Linked DNA regions of Homo sapiens: regions 1 and 3 are each linked to region 2. Evidence: fine-mapped expression QTL. A gene starts in region 2. Each other region holds a variant in brackets. All regions are shown on one strand. Distances are between the middles of the regions.

Region 1 (5,223 bases), 240 kb after region 2:
ATGTGGAAGAGGGAAAGAAGAACACTCGGGGCTGGGCACGGTGGCTCACGCCTGTAATCCCAGTACTGTAGGAAGCTGAGGTGGGGGGATTGCTTGAGCCCAGGAATTTGAGACCAGCCTGGGCAACATGGTGAAAATCCATCTCTACAAAAAGTACAAAAATTAGCTGGGCATGGTAGCGCCCACCTGTGGTCCCAGCTACTCAGGGACTGAGGAGGGAGGATCACTTGAGCCAGGGAGGTCAAGGCTGCAGTGAGCTGTGATCGTGCCACTGAGCTGTGATCACACCACTGCACTCCAGCCTGGGTGACAGAGTGAGACTCTGTCTCAAAAAAAAAAAAAAAAAGCTAGGTGCAGTGGCTCACGCCTGTTATCCCAGCACTTTGGGAGGCTGAGGTGGGCAGATCACCTGAGGTCAGGAGTTCAAGACCAGCCTGGCCCACATGGTGAAACCCCATCTCCACTAAAAATACAAAAATTAGCTAGGTGTAGTGGCGGATACCTGTAATTCCAGCTACTTGGCAGGCTGAGGCAGGGAGAATTGCTTGAATCTGGCAGGCGTGGGTTGCACTGAGCAGAGATTGTGTCACTGCACTCCAGCCTGGGCAACAGAGCGAGACTCTGTCTCAAAAAAGAAAAAAGAAGAGGAAAAATCTTCAGAAATTATATTCTAGAGGAAACATTCCTTGACCCTTGGACTTGGTCTGGTACCCTTATTTTATATAAACTGTTCTCAGAGCATGGTATTTCTTTTCTTCAGTGAGAGTTTATAATTAGTTGTTTTTGTGATTTCTTGATCAATGCCTGTTTTTCCTACTAGTTCTTGAGCTCCATGAATGCAGGGACTATGTCTATTTTTTAAAATTTTTTATTATGAGACAGAGTCTTGCTCTGTCGCCCAGGCTGGAGTGCAGTGGCCTGATCTTGGCTCACCGCAACCTCTGCCTCCTGAGTTCAAGCGATTCTCGTACCTCAGTCCCCTGAGTGCTGGGACTACAGATGTGTGCCACCACGCCTTGCTAATTTTTGTGCTTTTAGTAGAGACAGTTTTCGCCATGTTGGCCAGGCTAGTCTTGAACTCCTGACCTCAAGTGATCTGCCCACTTCAGCTTCCCAAAGTGCTGAGATTACAGACATGAGCCACTGCCGGAATATGTCTGTTTTTTTCATCATTCTCCTAACCCTGAGCATAACCCAGGTAATATTTGTTGCGCAAGTGATTGAATGGATGAAATCCTTGGCATGTAAACCTGAGTGACATTATTTATTCTCCAGGATAAATACTCCAAGCCTATCTTTTGTGTGGTCACTGGTTTTGTTTTGTTTTTTTTCCCCAGTAGCCCTCCTGAAAGCCTCAACATAGAGGAAGAAGCGCTAAGCATGGGATGGTGTGAGCAGATGAATAACTGAGCAGGCTTTGGAAGTTTATAGAACACCAATCACTTGTATTACCTGGTGCCAAGTAGCTGCCTTCTGTGTCTATGAGTTCTCAACCCAACTTCTTTCTCTCCCTATTTCCAACTGCCTGTTGGACATCTCTACCGGTATGTTCTGCTAGCATCCTTAGCAATACACACCCCAAACAGAATTTGTTATCTACCTCCAAAATAGGCTGATTTTTCCAGCCACTATTTATATAATTTTTCAGGCTAGAAATTGTGAGGTCAAGTTATATTCTTCTATAGGACACAAGGTCCTGTCATTTCTTCTGGAGGTGGCATGGTCATCAGAATGCCTATATTCAGATTTTATCTCTGCCACTTACTACCTAGGTAACCTTGGCGAAGACATCATCAAACATATCATGGCCTCAGCTTTCTCATCTGTACAATGGAGATAACTACTTCAGAAGGATGTTTATGAGGATCAAATGAAATAATATATGTTAAAGAGCATTGGCGGGGCATGATGGCTTATGCCTGTAATCCTAGCACTTTGGGAGGCCAAGGCAGGAGGATCACTTGAGGCCAGGAGTTCAAGACCAGTCTGGGCAACAGAGTGAGACTCTGTCTCAATTTAAAAATAAATAAATAAAGAGCATTATACAATGTAAAGAGTTGAGTAAGCATCAGTAATTATTTACAAAAAAAGCGACATTTTTACCTTCTTTTTTTGTTTGTTTGTTTGTTTTTTGCGATGGAGTCTCGCTCCTGTTGCACAGGCTGGAGTACAGTGGCGCGATCTCGGCTCACTGCAACCTCCACCTCCCGGCTTCAAGCGATTCTCCTTCCTCAGCCTCCAGAGTAGCTGGGATTACAGGCGTGCGACACCACGCCC[G/A]GCTAATTTTTGTATTTTTAGTAGAGACGGGGTTTTGCCATGTTGGCCAGGCTGATCTCGAACTCCCGACCTCAGTTGATCCACACGCCTCGGCCTCCCAAAGTTCTGGGATTACAGGCGTGAGCCACTGTGCCTGGCCTGAAATGTTGTTTTAAGTAGGTCAGATAAAGGGTTAATGTGCATACTACACAAAAATCTTATTCATAGTCTTATCTTCGACCCTTGGTAAATGGCTAAGGATACAAACAAGCTCATTTCATACACTCCAGTGTCTCCAAATCTGCCTCTCATTTGCTGCCAGAAAGGTCTTTCTAAAACACATGAGCTCATGTCATTCCTCATTAAGAACAAAAATAATCCTCAGGACAAAGATCAGATTCCTGAGTTTAGCCCTGACCATTCATTTCCAGCCAAAATCCCACCATCCCTCAGCCCCAGCATTCCGCATTGTAGCCATAATGGACAACTCTACATACTTTTACCCCTTTACCTCTCTACGCATCTTTCCCTCTCCCCCCAGCATTCCGCATTGTAGCCATAATGGACAACTCTACATACTTACCCCTTTACCTCTCTACGCATCTTTCCCTCTCCCCCCATACATCATTTTCTCACCTGGACAAATCTTAACTCTAGCTCTAGCTCTAAAGTCACTTGCCCTGCAAAAGCCTAATATATTTCAGAGTCAGGCCCTTCCTTCTTTGTCTTTCATTCAAAAAACTTTGCCCAAACTGCCTGCCAGTATTGTGCTTCTACTTGTGGAGGACAGTCAGTCATATATTTTCTGTACTATTCTGGCTCCCTCACCCTATCCCAAATGGTCATTTTCACTAGGTCACTCATCCTTGAGGGTAGCACATACTACCTGGCACATAGTGGGCACTCAAAATATGTCTGTTGCTTTGAATTGAGTAGGCACCTAAGAGGAAATACAAACAATAAACATTTTTTTAAAAGACTCAACTTTCTTAGTAATTAAGGAAATGCAAATTAAAGACTGTATGTATAGTGTGGTCCCAATTAATAGCTAAGCAGCAATTAAATACCTAATGCCAGTCAAAGCTTTAGGAAACAGGTGCAATCACACCTGGCTAGTGGCCAAGTAAACTGATATAATCCTTGTAGAAACACACTTAGGCAACACTTAGCAAGAGCTGGTATGCTTTGACCCAGTGTCTCACCTAGGAATTCAACCCAGTGAAATAATCCAAAAGAAAAAAAAATCTGTATGTATTAATATATATATATTTTTACATTCCACTGAACATTTAATAAGTTACATTCAGCTACAACTTTTTTAAAGGGACAAATTATAATGCAAGTATTTATTCAAATGCTGACCATTAAAACACCATCTGAACCATGTCAAATAATACTCATTTCCTTTTGTGAAATGTGTTAATGAGAACTTAAGAATTTCTATAGAAGGCTGAGCATTTTCAACATCCCCAGCCTAGATGAGAAAAGACTGTATTCGCTTAGTGGTGATTCAGGAAATACAATACAAAAGGAGCTTCAACTCCTATGTGGATACAAGGCTGGCATCCACGATGGATGGGCTCCAGAAAACAATCATGCAGTGTTCCCGTTTTGGTCTGAGAACCAAGACACAAAATCTGATCTAGGGTGAAACTACATATAGGACATGGAGAGGACTGGACCAAGGGGCTCACTGTATCTGGGGGACCAAAGAGAAAGTAGTGTGCAGATATTGCTTTGACCTTAAAATAAATGTTAAGTGAGACAAAGAAGAAGCCAGGAGCCTTCTCACAACCTTTCCAGGCCAGCAGCTCCCAAGATATTTACTTCAAGGTAGTTGGTAGGAAATATAAATGTTCACTGGCTCTGACTCAACAATTAAACCATCATAACAGATGCAACGTTGAGGAGAGGCAGCTGTCAAACCACCTATAAACTCGAGTGGGGATCAGCTTGAAAGATGCCTATCTATTATCAGTGTCTGGGAAGACTAAAAAAAAAAAAAAAAAAAAAAAGGCCAGGTGAGGTGGCCCAAGCCTGTAATCCTAGCACTTTGGGAGGCCGAGGCAGGTGGATCACCTGAGGTCAGGAGTTCGAGACCAGCTTGGGCAATGTGGTGAAACCCCATCTCTACTAAAAATACAAAAATCAGCCAGGTGTGGCGGCACATGCCTGTAATCTCAGCTACTCGGGAGGCTGAGGCAGGAGAATCACTTGAACCCGGCAGGTGGAGGCTGCAGTGAGTGGAGATCCCGACAGAGCAAGACTCTGTCCAGCCTAGGCTGGAGTGTAGTGGTGCAACCACGGCTCACTGCAACCTTGACCTCCTGGGCTCAAGCAATCCACCCACTCAAGTAATTAGGATGACAGGCATGTGTCACCACATCAGCTTTTTTTTTTTTTTTTTGAGATAAGTTCTCGCTATGTTGCCAAGGCTGGTCTTGAACTCCTGGCTCAAATAATCCTCCCTCTTTGGCCTCCCAAAGTGCTAGGGTTATAGGGATGAGCCACTGCACCCAGCTGAGACTGTTAATTATATATAAAGAGTACTTGACCAGACACAGAAAATATTAATAAGTGTGGTTTTCTTCCCCATGAAAACCAGCTTTTTAAAAAAATTGAATGTTCCCAATGCAAAGAAATGATAAATGTTCCAGATGATGGATGTTAATTGCCCCAATCTGATCAGTATACATTATAATGTATCAAAACATCACTATTTGCCCCATGAATATTCACAATTTTACTTGTCAATTAAAAAAATGATTAAATACTTTTTAAAAAAAGCAGTGATTTGTAGAGCAGGTTTCTGATGATTGTAGACTGGATTGTAAACCTTTTGTAAATGCTTGCATTTAGTGGCATTTGTTATTTGCAGTAAAGGGCCAATCACAAGTAATACATAAATAGACTATTATTCCTTTATTGTAAGTAGCTTGTTGCAAAATAAATATGTCAGCTATTAAT
Region 2 (5,223 bases):
CTAATTTTTGTATTTTTTGTACAGACGGGGTTTCGCCACGTTGGCCAGGCTGGTCTTGAACTCCTGACCTCAAGCAATCCGCCCGCCTTGGCCTCCTGAAGTGCTGGCTCACAGGCGAGAGCCACCGTGTGGTTTCATGATCTTTAAAGATCAGTCACTAGGTGGGGCGTTGTGGCTCATGCCTGTAATTTTAGGACTTGGGAAGGCCAAGACAGAAGGATTACTTGGGGCCAGAAGTTAGAGACCAGCTGGGGCAACATCAATCAAAAATAAAAATCATTGACCTTTCTGCCAAATCCATGATTGAAATTGTCTTTCCAGCACCCAAGCTTTATGCCTTTTGCCACCTGGAATATCCTAGCCCCTCTTGTCTGCCATCCATCAAATTCCTTTCTAAATGCCACCTCCACACTTTTGTTCATGCTGTTCCTGTCACCTAAGATACCCTAGGATAACTATATACTATTCCTCAGCCATACAGGGTATGCTTGGCTTTTATATCCATCATCAGACCCCTTACAGCTCTGTTACTATCTGCATTCACGTTCTGTACATGAAGAAACCAAGGCTCTGAAGATTAAATAACAGGCCCAAGTTACAAAGCTAGTAGGTGCTGGAGTCAAGATTCAAAACAGGTTTTGACTAAAACAACAGCGTTCTCACTTCATCATCCCCCCCACACCCTGCCCCCATCTTATCAAATCCTGCTCATCCAGTGTCACGGCTTTCCCAAGCACACCCAATCACGTGTTCTCTCCCGTTTTCCCCCTTATCAGGCATCCAAATGCCTCCCTTCCCCTCCTCCAGCCCACAGGCTTCTTAAAAGCAGGGCTGATACCGGGCGCGGTGGCTCACGCCTGTAATCCCAGCACTTGGGGAGGCCGACGCGGGCGAATCACGAGGTCAGGAGATCGAGATCATCCTGGCTAACACGATGAAACCTCCTCTCTACTAAAAATACAAAAATTAGCCAGGCGTGGTGGCGGGCACGCCTGTAGTACCAGCTTACTCGGGAGGCTGAGGCAGAATAGCGTGAACCCGGGAGGAGGAGCTTGCAGTGAGCCGAAATCGCGCCACTGCACTCCAGCCTGGAGGACAGAGTGAGACTCCGTCTCTTAAAAAAAAAAAAAAAAAAAGCAGGGCTGGGTTAGTCCCGCCCTTGATCCCTGCCCTTTGCCTCCACCAGGCTCCCTCAGCTTGCTCAGTCAATCCCTGCTGGGTCGATTGGCCCCTAAAAGGTCAATATCAACAACATCCTCAGCCCTAGGGAACAGCAGCAGCAGTCATAGGAAAACTGTCATCTTCAGACCCCACTGTGCCCCTCCTAGCTCTGTGTTCTGCTTAACTGTGGGAGTCAGAGAGAAGGGGCAGCCTGGGAGGCTTGATGTGCCTCTCTGAGTAAGACACTAAAGCAAGGCAGCAGGTACAAAGAAGAATAGTGATCATAACAGAGGAACATTTATTAAGCTTTCGCCGGGTGCACAGCACTGTGCTAAGAGACACAGAAACAATCTGGGAAGAGAGCTCAGAGCAGCGCGGGAGAAAGGGGCCACATCAGGAAGGGTTTTGTAAACCTTGTGCAAGATTCTATGCTGAGGACAACAGGTGGGGCGCTGGGGGTGGGGAAGTGACAGATCTGTTTGGAAGAAGCCCTCTAGCAGGTGTCAAAACTCTTCCCCTTCACCCTACCAGGCCCCTGGTAGGTAAAGACTAGAAAGGGATGGAAGCAGCAACATCTCCCTGATTTCTGAACCAACCTATGGTGGGTGGGGGAGGTTGATGAATTTAGTGGCGGAAACCAAGAATGCCGAACTGGGCCCCTGGAGTGAGAGGTATCAGACTGTACAAGAGACATTAGTGCAGAGGTAAAAGCTAAGAAGAGGCATAATTTGGAGTCAGGAGCCCTGGGTCAGGTGTGAACATTATCTTTAACTTACTATCTGAGTCTATTCCTACATCTGTGAAGCAGAGAAAACAATTCCATTCTCTGCCTATCCTCAGGAATACCAAATGAACAAATGAACATGAAAGGTATAATATGTGCCCTTTTCTCAACAGGCAGCTGACCCCTGAATTGTCTGCTGTGTTTCCTGTTTCACTCTCGGGGTCTTGTCTTCCTGCCCAGTCTCCCCACAGCAGGGTCTAGCACCAGGGTTGGGGGGTGGGGGCCCATCCTCCTCCTCCGGCTGGAAATGAGCTTTCAACTTGTTGAGATGGGGACCTTCTCCCTCTCCCTCCCCCACAGGTCCCAGAAGAGGCGACAGCTTCACCTCAGGACCACCCACCCCTCCCAAGCCACTGAGGAGTTTGGGATCAGCCCAGGAGCTCTTCACTCAATAGCTGGTGCTGAAACACGTGTAGGGCTGCTCCCCACCGCCTGCACGTTAAAATCACCTGAGGAGCTGTGCAATAATACCGAGGCCCAGGCCTCACCCAGAACAGTTAAATCGGAATCTCTTCGGGCGGGCCCAGCATCGGTGTTTTTCAAAGCTCCCCAAGTGCCACCAGGGTTAAATGCCTTTATGCTAATGGCACGGATCCCGACCTGACCAGTGCATCCCTCGATCCCAGACCACCAGGGAGCTATTTGACCCACTGCATCCCTTTCCTCCAGACCCCCGGAGAGCCTTTCTGCGAGGATTCCACCCTTGCCCCCTTGAACCCCGCTTCTTCCGCCCGGACCACACAACTCTCCCAATCCACAATATGATCACCCCAAAGACCCCCGCAGATAGCCCCCATGACTCCCAGAGCGCAAAGCATTCCCCTCCCCCTCGGGTCTGTCGTTTGTGCCAGATCGGCCCCAGCCCAGCCCGCTCCTGCCCGCGAGCCCCGGCCGCTGGCCAGCGTCTCACCGCAATCGTAGCCGGCGAAGCCTAATCCCACGGCTGGCGGGAGCCAGGTGCGAGCCAATGCGCCTGCGCGCACTTCTAGGGCTTCCCCAGCCTCTCCCTCCGCCCCCGCCCAGCGATTGGCTCCGCGCGGCCCCCGGGCGCAGCTCCGGCAGGTGACTGCGCCTGAGGCTGCCGCCGCCATGTTTGTCACGGGCGCTTGCCCTTAGCGACCAAAATTAAAAGCGGACACTGGCAAATAGGGTCAGGTTGCCTGGATTCCTGACCGGCTCAACCCCTCTCCTTTACCTCCACGATAGCTTAATGTCATTTCAGTTGAAACCAACACGTTTTTTCTAAGCGCTCACCTTCCTTCCCTCCTTGCCTAGTACTCGTTGGGAGAACAAAGAGAGGTCAGCATCCTCCATTGAGTCTTGTGGTCTGAGCGGATGCACAGCTGCAGCCGACTTGGAGGTGTCAGCGGCTCGATCTGGGACTCCCTGATGCTGCATCATGAGCCCTTCAAGGGTGGACAGGTCCAGGTTGAGCTGTGGGCACCAGGGCTCTAGCCACAGGAGCCAGGGCTGAAGGTGGGAAACAGCCACCAGGGCCTGAATGAGCAACCATGCAGCACAACCTCTTTGTATTAATAACGGCAATAATAAAACCTAAGGAGTACTGAGTGCTTGCTATGTGCACCGTACTACATTCAGAACAACACGTGCATTCTCTTGTTGAGTCCTCACATCATTCCTAGGAGGTAGGCGCTTTTATCCACATTTTATATGTGAAGAAACTGCATTTCAGAGAGATTCAATGACACGCAAACAGCAAGGGCCCAGTCGAGGTGGAACCCGCTATCCTGACTCCCATAACAAGAGTCTTTCCTCTTCCCACACCTGCACAATCCCTCAAAATCAAGTTTTGTTTGGCTCAATGTAGGCTGTGGAGGATGTTTTATGTTTTCTCCCAATTGGCCTGTAAGCCTGGATAGGTTTTTGGGCAAGCAAACAGCACACATTCCAGCTCTGCCTGGTTCCCCTACCTTGGGACACAGGGCAAAAAGCCTGTGGCCTTTGCCTTATGGGGGACTTGGAACTCAACCCCTAGCTCCAACACTTCTTTGCTAAGGGACTTCTTTATTATTATTTTTTGAAACAGGGTCTTGCTCTGTTGCTCAGGCTAGAGTGCAGTGGTGGCATGATCTCAGCTCACTGTAACCTCCACCTCCCTGGCTCAGATGATCCTCTCACCTTAGCCTCCCAAGTTGCTGGGACCACCACCTCACTCCACCATGCCTGGCTAATTTCTAGAATTATTTGTAGAGATGGAGTCTCACTATGTTACCCAGGCTGGTCTTGAACTCCTGGGCTCAAGGGACCCTCCCGCTTCAGCCTCCCAAAGTGCTGGAATGATAAGCGTGAGTCACTGCACCTGGCTGGGACCCTCCTTTTGTGAGTCTGTTTTATGCTTTACAGGGATTTTTCAGACATTAAATGAGAAACAAGGGTGTAGGAGCTTTGTGAACTGCTCATCCTTATGACCTTCATTGATGGTTGTCGGCTAACTTCCTGCAACAGGAATGTTGTCCTCCTCCTAACAACCACAGCAAATGGTCCAATGTAGACGCCTAGTGTCCAGGGGCTACAGATTATTCAACCAGTTCCTGAGGAGCCCCCAGGGATGCCATGAACCTTGCCCCCAGAATCCATCTCCCACTAACCTGTCTCATTTCCCTCCTTCCCAATCTCTCTCTTTCGGACACCCTTCACACTTCCCATGTCACCCCAAGCCACACATACACGCACACACATACATACAACCATCTCTCTTCTAGACTTAGACAACTGCTGAAACTCCTCCTGATCCAGAAAGCCTCATGAGTAGAAGACAGGTGATCATTTTGTCCCTCTCCTCACCTCTTACCTCCATCTGTGCTTTCCTGGCTGTGAGAACAGAAAACCCAGCATTCAGCCTGGGGTCCGGCACACTGGGATCTCCATACATTTGCTAAAGGAGTCTCCCCGCCTTTCTATCTGTGGCCAGCATGTGCTTTTATTTCAAAGCAAACCCGAGTCTTTACTTAGCCCTCCCTGGGTATCCAGTGGGGAAATGGAAATGGGGAGGGCTGGCAGGGGCCAGAGCTGGATGTGACCCAGGAGAAAAGACCTTTGGTCCCTCACAGCCAGGCAAGGTGGCTCACACCTGTAATCCCAGCACTTTGGGAGGCTGAGGTGGTTGGATCACGAGGTCAGGAGATCGAGACCATCCTGGCCAACATAGTGAAACCCCATCTCTACTAAAATACTAAAATTAGCTGGGCGTGGTAGCGTGTGCCTGTAATCCCAGCTACTCAGGAGGCTGAGGGAGGAGAACTGCTTGATCCAGGGAA
Region 3 (5,223 bases), 30 kb before region 2:
TGAGGCAGCTCAGCTGCTCCTCATTCTCCACTGATTCTTCACCCTATGACTGGCATGGCAGGCCTGCTTGGGGGCTGCAAGGACACGCTGGGTCTGGTTCCACCTTGTGCATCACTCCCAGTGCTGCTTTCCCCTTTGCTGAACCGCCTCTGCCTGGGGCTTCTGTCATTTCAGCTGGTCATTCAGGTTCCATACTTTAGGTTCTATCTGCCAGTCATTTGCACTTGATTTTAATTTTACTCAGCCAGCATCTGTTGAGTACCCAGCAAATGCCAGATACTGCCAAAATGTATTTTAGCCTTAAGGAACTTCAACTGAAAAGAGACGAAAGTGGAAACCTTACATTGTAATAAAAAGCAGAATGAAGTGCATGCCACCTCGTGGTACAGGTAATGGAAATTTGCTGTGAGATAATAGGAAGATGATCATTCATTCCAACTGGGGATGTTTCTTCAGGAGGAAGGTGATGATATTTGAACTGGGCTTTTTATACTCTTTGCTAGGAAGGACAGAGAAGAAAAAACAAATCTGACTTCATAATCTGCCTGTTTACCCAGACTCTAGTCCTTTTGCTAGTAAACTAAAAATAAAATACCCAGGAAAATCATCTCTTAAAAATATCCAGGGTCTGAAGGACAGATCTCATCCTCTCTTGTTTTTAACCTCTGCCGGGAGACCCAATTAGTCTGTTGGCATCACCACACCCAGATGAAGGCAGTGAGCAATCATTGGAAGCCTGAGCAAACAAGTTCTAGGAGTTCCCCCCTTGCCTGTCCGTGCCTTGCTCTCAGAGCCCTTGGGTTTGTAGGCAAATTGCCCCTCCTTCCCAGTCTTTCAGCTCACTTGACAGCTGCACCTTTTCCAGGCTCCTTGTTGTACTGCCCAGTCCAATGAGTTTGCACATTGTCTTCTGTTTTCACTCTCTTCTGTTGGCAAAGATTCCTGCTCCCTTAGAGAACTGGCTGCCCTGCTCTCCTCTCATACCACTTTCTCTGCCCTTCAACCACTTCTTTTTTTTTTTTTTTTTTTTTTTGAGGTGGAGTCTCACTCTGTCTCCCTGGCTAGAGTGCAGTGGTGCGATCTTGGCTCACTGCAACCTCCACCTCCTGGGTTCAAGTGATTCTCCTGCCTCAGCCTCCCTGAGTAGCTGGGATTACAGACGTGTAGCACACCTGGCTAATTTTTGTATTTGTAGTAAAGACAGTGTTTTGCCATGTTGGCCAGGCTGGCCTTGAACTCCCTGGCCTCATGTGATCTGCCCCGCTTCGGCCTCCCACAGTGCTGGGATTACAGGCGTGAGCCACCACACCTGGCTTCCTTCAACCACTTGCTTCCTCCACCAACCTCTGTCTTGCCAAAGGCAAGCACCAGATGGCCAGTCTCACTCCCCCTCTTCCTGCAGAAGAGCAGGAATAAGAGAGTCAAGGAGGGAAGCAGGCATGTTGCTGGGAAGCCTTTGGTGCAGATAACCTTGGCTACTTAGAGTCTCCAGGTGTGTTCAGTGCTTGTAGAATGAGGTCAGTAAATACCACACTCCACCCCAGGAGAGTGGTCAACAGGCAGCAGGAAAAGGCTTGCCCCAGCTACGGGTGCAGCTGCAAACCATGTTGGGTTAGAAAGGTGAGGGTATCAGGTGTGGTGGTAGAAGAGTTAAGAAGGAAGAAGAGGCCAGGCGCGGTGGTTCATGCCTGTAATCCCAGCACTTTGGGAGGCCGAGGCAGGTGGATCACAAGGTCAGGAGTTCGAGACCAGCCTGACCAACACGGTGAACCCTCATCTCCACTAAAAATACAAAAATTAGCCAGGCATGGTGGTGCGCGCCTGTAATCCCAGCTATTCAGGAGGCTGAGGCAGGAGAATCGCTTGAACCCAGGAGGTGGAGGTTGCAGTGAGCTGAGATTGTGCCACCACACTCCAGCCTGGGTGACAGACCGAGATTCTGTCTCAAAAAAAAAAAAAAAAAAAGGCCGGGCACGGTGGGCTCACGCCTATAATCCCAGCACTTTGGGAGGCCAAGGCGGGCGGATCACGAGGTCAGGAGATCGAGATCATCCTGGCTAACACGGTGAAACCCTGTCTCTACTAAAAAAAAAAAAAAAAAATTAGCCAGGCATGCTGGTGGGCACCTGTAGTCCCAGCTACTCAGGAGGCTGAGGCAGGAGAATGGCATGAACCTGGGAGGCAGAGCTTGCAGTGAGCCCAGATTGCACCACTGCACTCCAGCCTGGGCGACAGAGCGAGACTCCATCTCAAAAAAAAGGAAGAGGACAGGGTGTATCTACAAGCAATACTAAGCCTTGACATCTGTCCTGCACAGGGTTGGTCTCTGTGTCCAGAGTCACTGTTTACATTGATTGGGCCCTGGGTGGTACCTGAGATGCTGGGAGAACTCAGATTCTTTTCTGGACACCTCACTCGACATACCAAGTGTTGGAGCAGCAGGACTGTGGTTCTCTTCTATTCTCAGAGTAGGCTTTAGTCTTTGCTTCTCTTTACCATCAGGAGACCAAGGAGTAAAAGGAAAGCATAGTTAAAAAGAAAACAACAACAAAAATCTCCCAAAGCATCGTGCTCTGCCCTTGCAATAAGAACCAGACAGCACGTGTTCCATGGGAGTCCATTTCAAGCATGACAGTGCTCATGGCGGTGTCTGTCACAGAGGCCCTGGAAGCTGGGAGAGTTCAGGCCTGAGCTGGGAAAGTAGGTTAAAAGCACCCCAGGGTGGCGTAACAAGGAGTCATGTGCTTTTCCTACCTTATGTTCCTGAACTTGGCTGCTTTGATGCTTCTAGGTACTTTCTTCTTTCCCCAGGTTTTCTGTCTTTTTCTTCCCTTTATTACTAGTATTTTTAATTCCCAAAGCAAAACATGTTCAATGTAGAAAAGTCAGAGACTACAGAAAAATCACACATACGGTTGTGTATACAGTGAGAATCCTCCTCACCATCCTATTTCCACTTCCCTTCTTTTGGTGTGCATTTACCTTTTTCTAGGTTCAAATAAATGTATATATTATATACAAATATTAGTTTTGTTTT[T/G]TTTTTCCTGTGAGACAGAGTCTGTCACCCAGGCTGGAGTGCAGTGGCACAATCTTGGCTCACTGCAACCTCTGCCTCCCAGATTCAAGTGATTCTCCCACCTCAGCCTCCCAAGTAGCTGGAACTACAGGTGCCTGCCAACATGCCCAGCTAATTGTTGCATTTTTACTAGAGACAGGCTTTCACCATGGTGGCTAGGCTGGTCTCAAACTCCTGACCTCAAGTGATCCGCCTGCCTCTGCCTCCCAAAGTGTTGGGATTACAAGTGTGAGCCACTGCGCCCGGCCGCTTTCTTTTCTTAAATAAAAATGGTACCATATAATGTATTTTTCCTTTTGTATTTGTGATAGTTCTGACTCCTCATTCTCTCTCCTCTTTCCTCAGGGATCCGGTGTGATTAAAGCTGGTTTTGCTGGTGATCAGATCCCCAAATACTGCTTTCCAAACTAGTAAGTCATTCTGTAGCTTAGACGTTTTGGAGGCTCATCAGCTTTGTTACAGGCCCAGCCCTATAAGGGACAGGAGCCGAGTTTGGAGTCAACAAAGGAAAACAGTTGTCTACATGGTACAATTTGAGAGGCACAGATAAGAGGCCTCTTTTTAAAAATCCAATTTTATCTGATGCTAAAAAATTTTATCATTGGTAACTTATTGCTTTGGAGGATTGCCTCTTGGTGGAGCCCTCCTTTTAAAATTCTCCTATCACCCAGGCTGGGGATTAACATTTAACCCATCTACCATCTTTTTTTTTTTTTTTTTTTTTTTGAGACGGAGTCTCGCTGTGTTGCCCAGGCTGGAGTGCAGTGGTGTGATCTTGGCTTACTGCAAGCTCTGCATCCCGGGTTCACACCATTCTGCCTCAGCCTCCCGAGTAGCTGGGACTACAGGCGCCTGCCACCGTGCCTGGCTAATTTTTTTGTATTTTTAGTAGAGATGGGATTTCACCGTATTAGCCAGGATGGTCTTGATCTCCTGACCTCATGGTCTGCCTGCCTCGGCCTCCCAAAGTGCTGGGATTACAGCCCTTCTACCATCTTAATGAGGAGTTTCTCAGAACTTTCCTCCTAAGACAGAGAGACTGCAGGCAGGAGAAGAGCACAGAGGCTTACAGGAAGGGCTTAAAGGGGGAGGAAAGGAAGAGGCTATCTGTCCGATCTATAGCATCACAGTTTTTTTTGTTTTCTGAGATGGAGTCTCATTCTGTAGCCCAGGCTGGAGTGCAGTGGCGCAATCTCGGCTCACTGCAACTCCTGCCTTGCAGGTTCAAGCGATTCTCGTGCCTCAGCCTCCCAAGTAGCTGGGATTATAGGCATGTGCCATCACGCCCAGCTAATGTTTGTATTTTTAGTAGAGATGGGGTTTCACCATGTTGGCCAGGCTGGTCTCAAACTCTTGACCTCAAATGATCCACCTGCCTCAGCCTCCCAAAGTGCTGGGATTATAGGTGTGAGCCATCGAGCCCAGCCCAGCATCAGTTTTACTTAGAGGTCCTGGGAAGGGGACTAAGGACACTAAAATGTTTTGAGTTAATCACTCCTTTAGAAATTCTCATTTCCTCATCTTTCTTGGTCTGTTCATACACTGCAGAAAGAGAAGAACTAGAGGTATTAAATACTCTAAAAATTTGTTTTCATAATTTATAATAAATATAAAATATGAAATAATATATAAATAATACATGTTCATTTTAGAAATTGTGGAAAATACAGAAAAGTATAAAGAAGAAAATCAAAATCAACTGTGACTTCACTCCTTGAAGATAATCTCAGTAGAATTTGAGTGTGTATGTACATCTATACATCCTTCCTGTGTTCTGTCATGAAATGAAAAATGATGGTCCTCCTCACTGTCTTTTCTAGTGTGGGCCGACCCAAGCACGTTCGTGTCATGGCAGGAGCCCTTGAAGGCGACATCTTCATTGGCCCCAAAGCTGAGGTAATTCCCAGGCCTACAGAACAAGCCTTAAGCCAGCAGAGGACCTTCATTATTCACCACATGGAACATGTCCCAACATTTGGACATACCCATAAGTAAAAGGGGCAACTTTCTCTGAAAATCTCCTTTTTGATTCTCTCATCCTAGGCTTAGGTGGTTTATTTTTCCCAGGAACAGCCTGTGGTCTTGGAGAAGAAAATACCTGGGACCTCACTTTGGGACACACTGAGACCAGTCTAGGAAACAGGGCT

The links. PIP is the estimated chance that this variant, and not a neighbour inherited with it, causes the effect.
Region 1: its variant is the best candidate, but not a certain one, in a credible set for the expression of SLC68A1 in whole blood (INTERVAL, PIP 0.50).
Region 3: its variant is the best candidate, but not a certain one, in a credible set for the expression of SLC68A1 in whole blood (TOPMed, PIP 0.67).

The regions. Positions count from the first base shown.
Region 1 is chr10:102,218,981-102,224,203 of GRCh38, reverse strand. No RefSeq gene overlaps it. Among named protein-coding and RNA genes, the nearest start is that of ELOVL3, 4.7 kb to the left of the region's middle. The variant G/A (reference allele first, on the strand shown) is at 2,278.
Region 2 is chr10:102,459,083-102,464,305 of GRCh38, reverse strand. SLC68A1 (solute carrier family 68 member 1) reads right to left here and starts at 2,911. Exons shown (of 10, transcript NM_024789.4): 1 at 2,856-2,911. LOC124902493 (a long non-coding RNA gene) reads left to right here. Exons shown (of 3, transcript XR_007062270.1): 3 at 2,246-3,513. RefSeq lists enhancers at 1,829-2,511, 2,512-3,195, 3,323-3,392 and a silencer at 2,833-3,052.
Region 3 is chr10:102,488,812-102,494,034 of GRCh38, reverse strand. It overlaps ACTR1A (actin related protein 1A), which reads left to right. Exons shown (of 11, transcript NM_005736.4): 2 at 3,422-3,486; 3 at 4,897-4,972. Among named protein-coding and RNA genes, the nearest start is that of ACTR1A, 11 kb to the left of the region's middle. The variant T/G (reference allele first, on the strand shown) is at 3,038.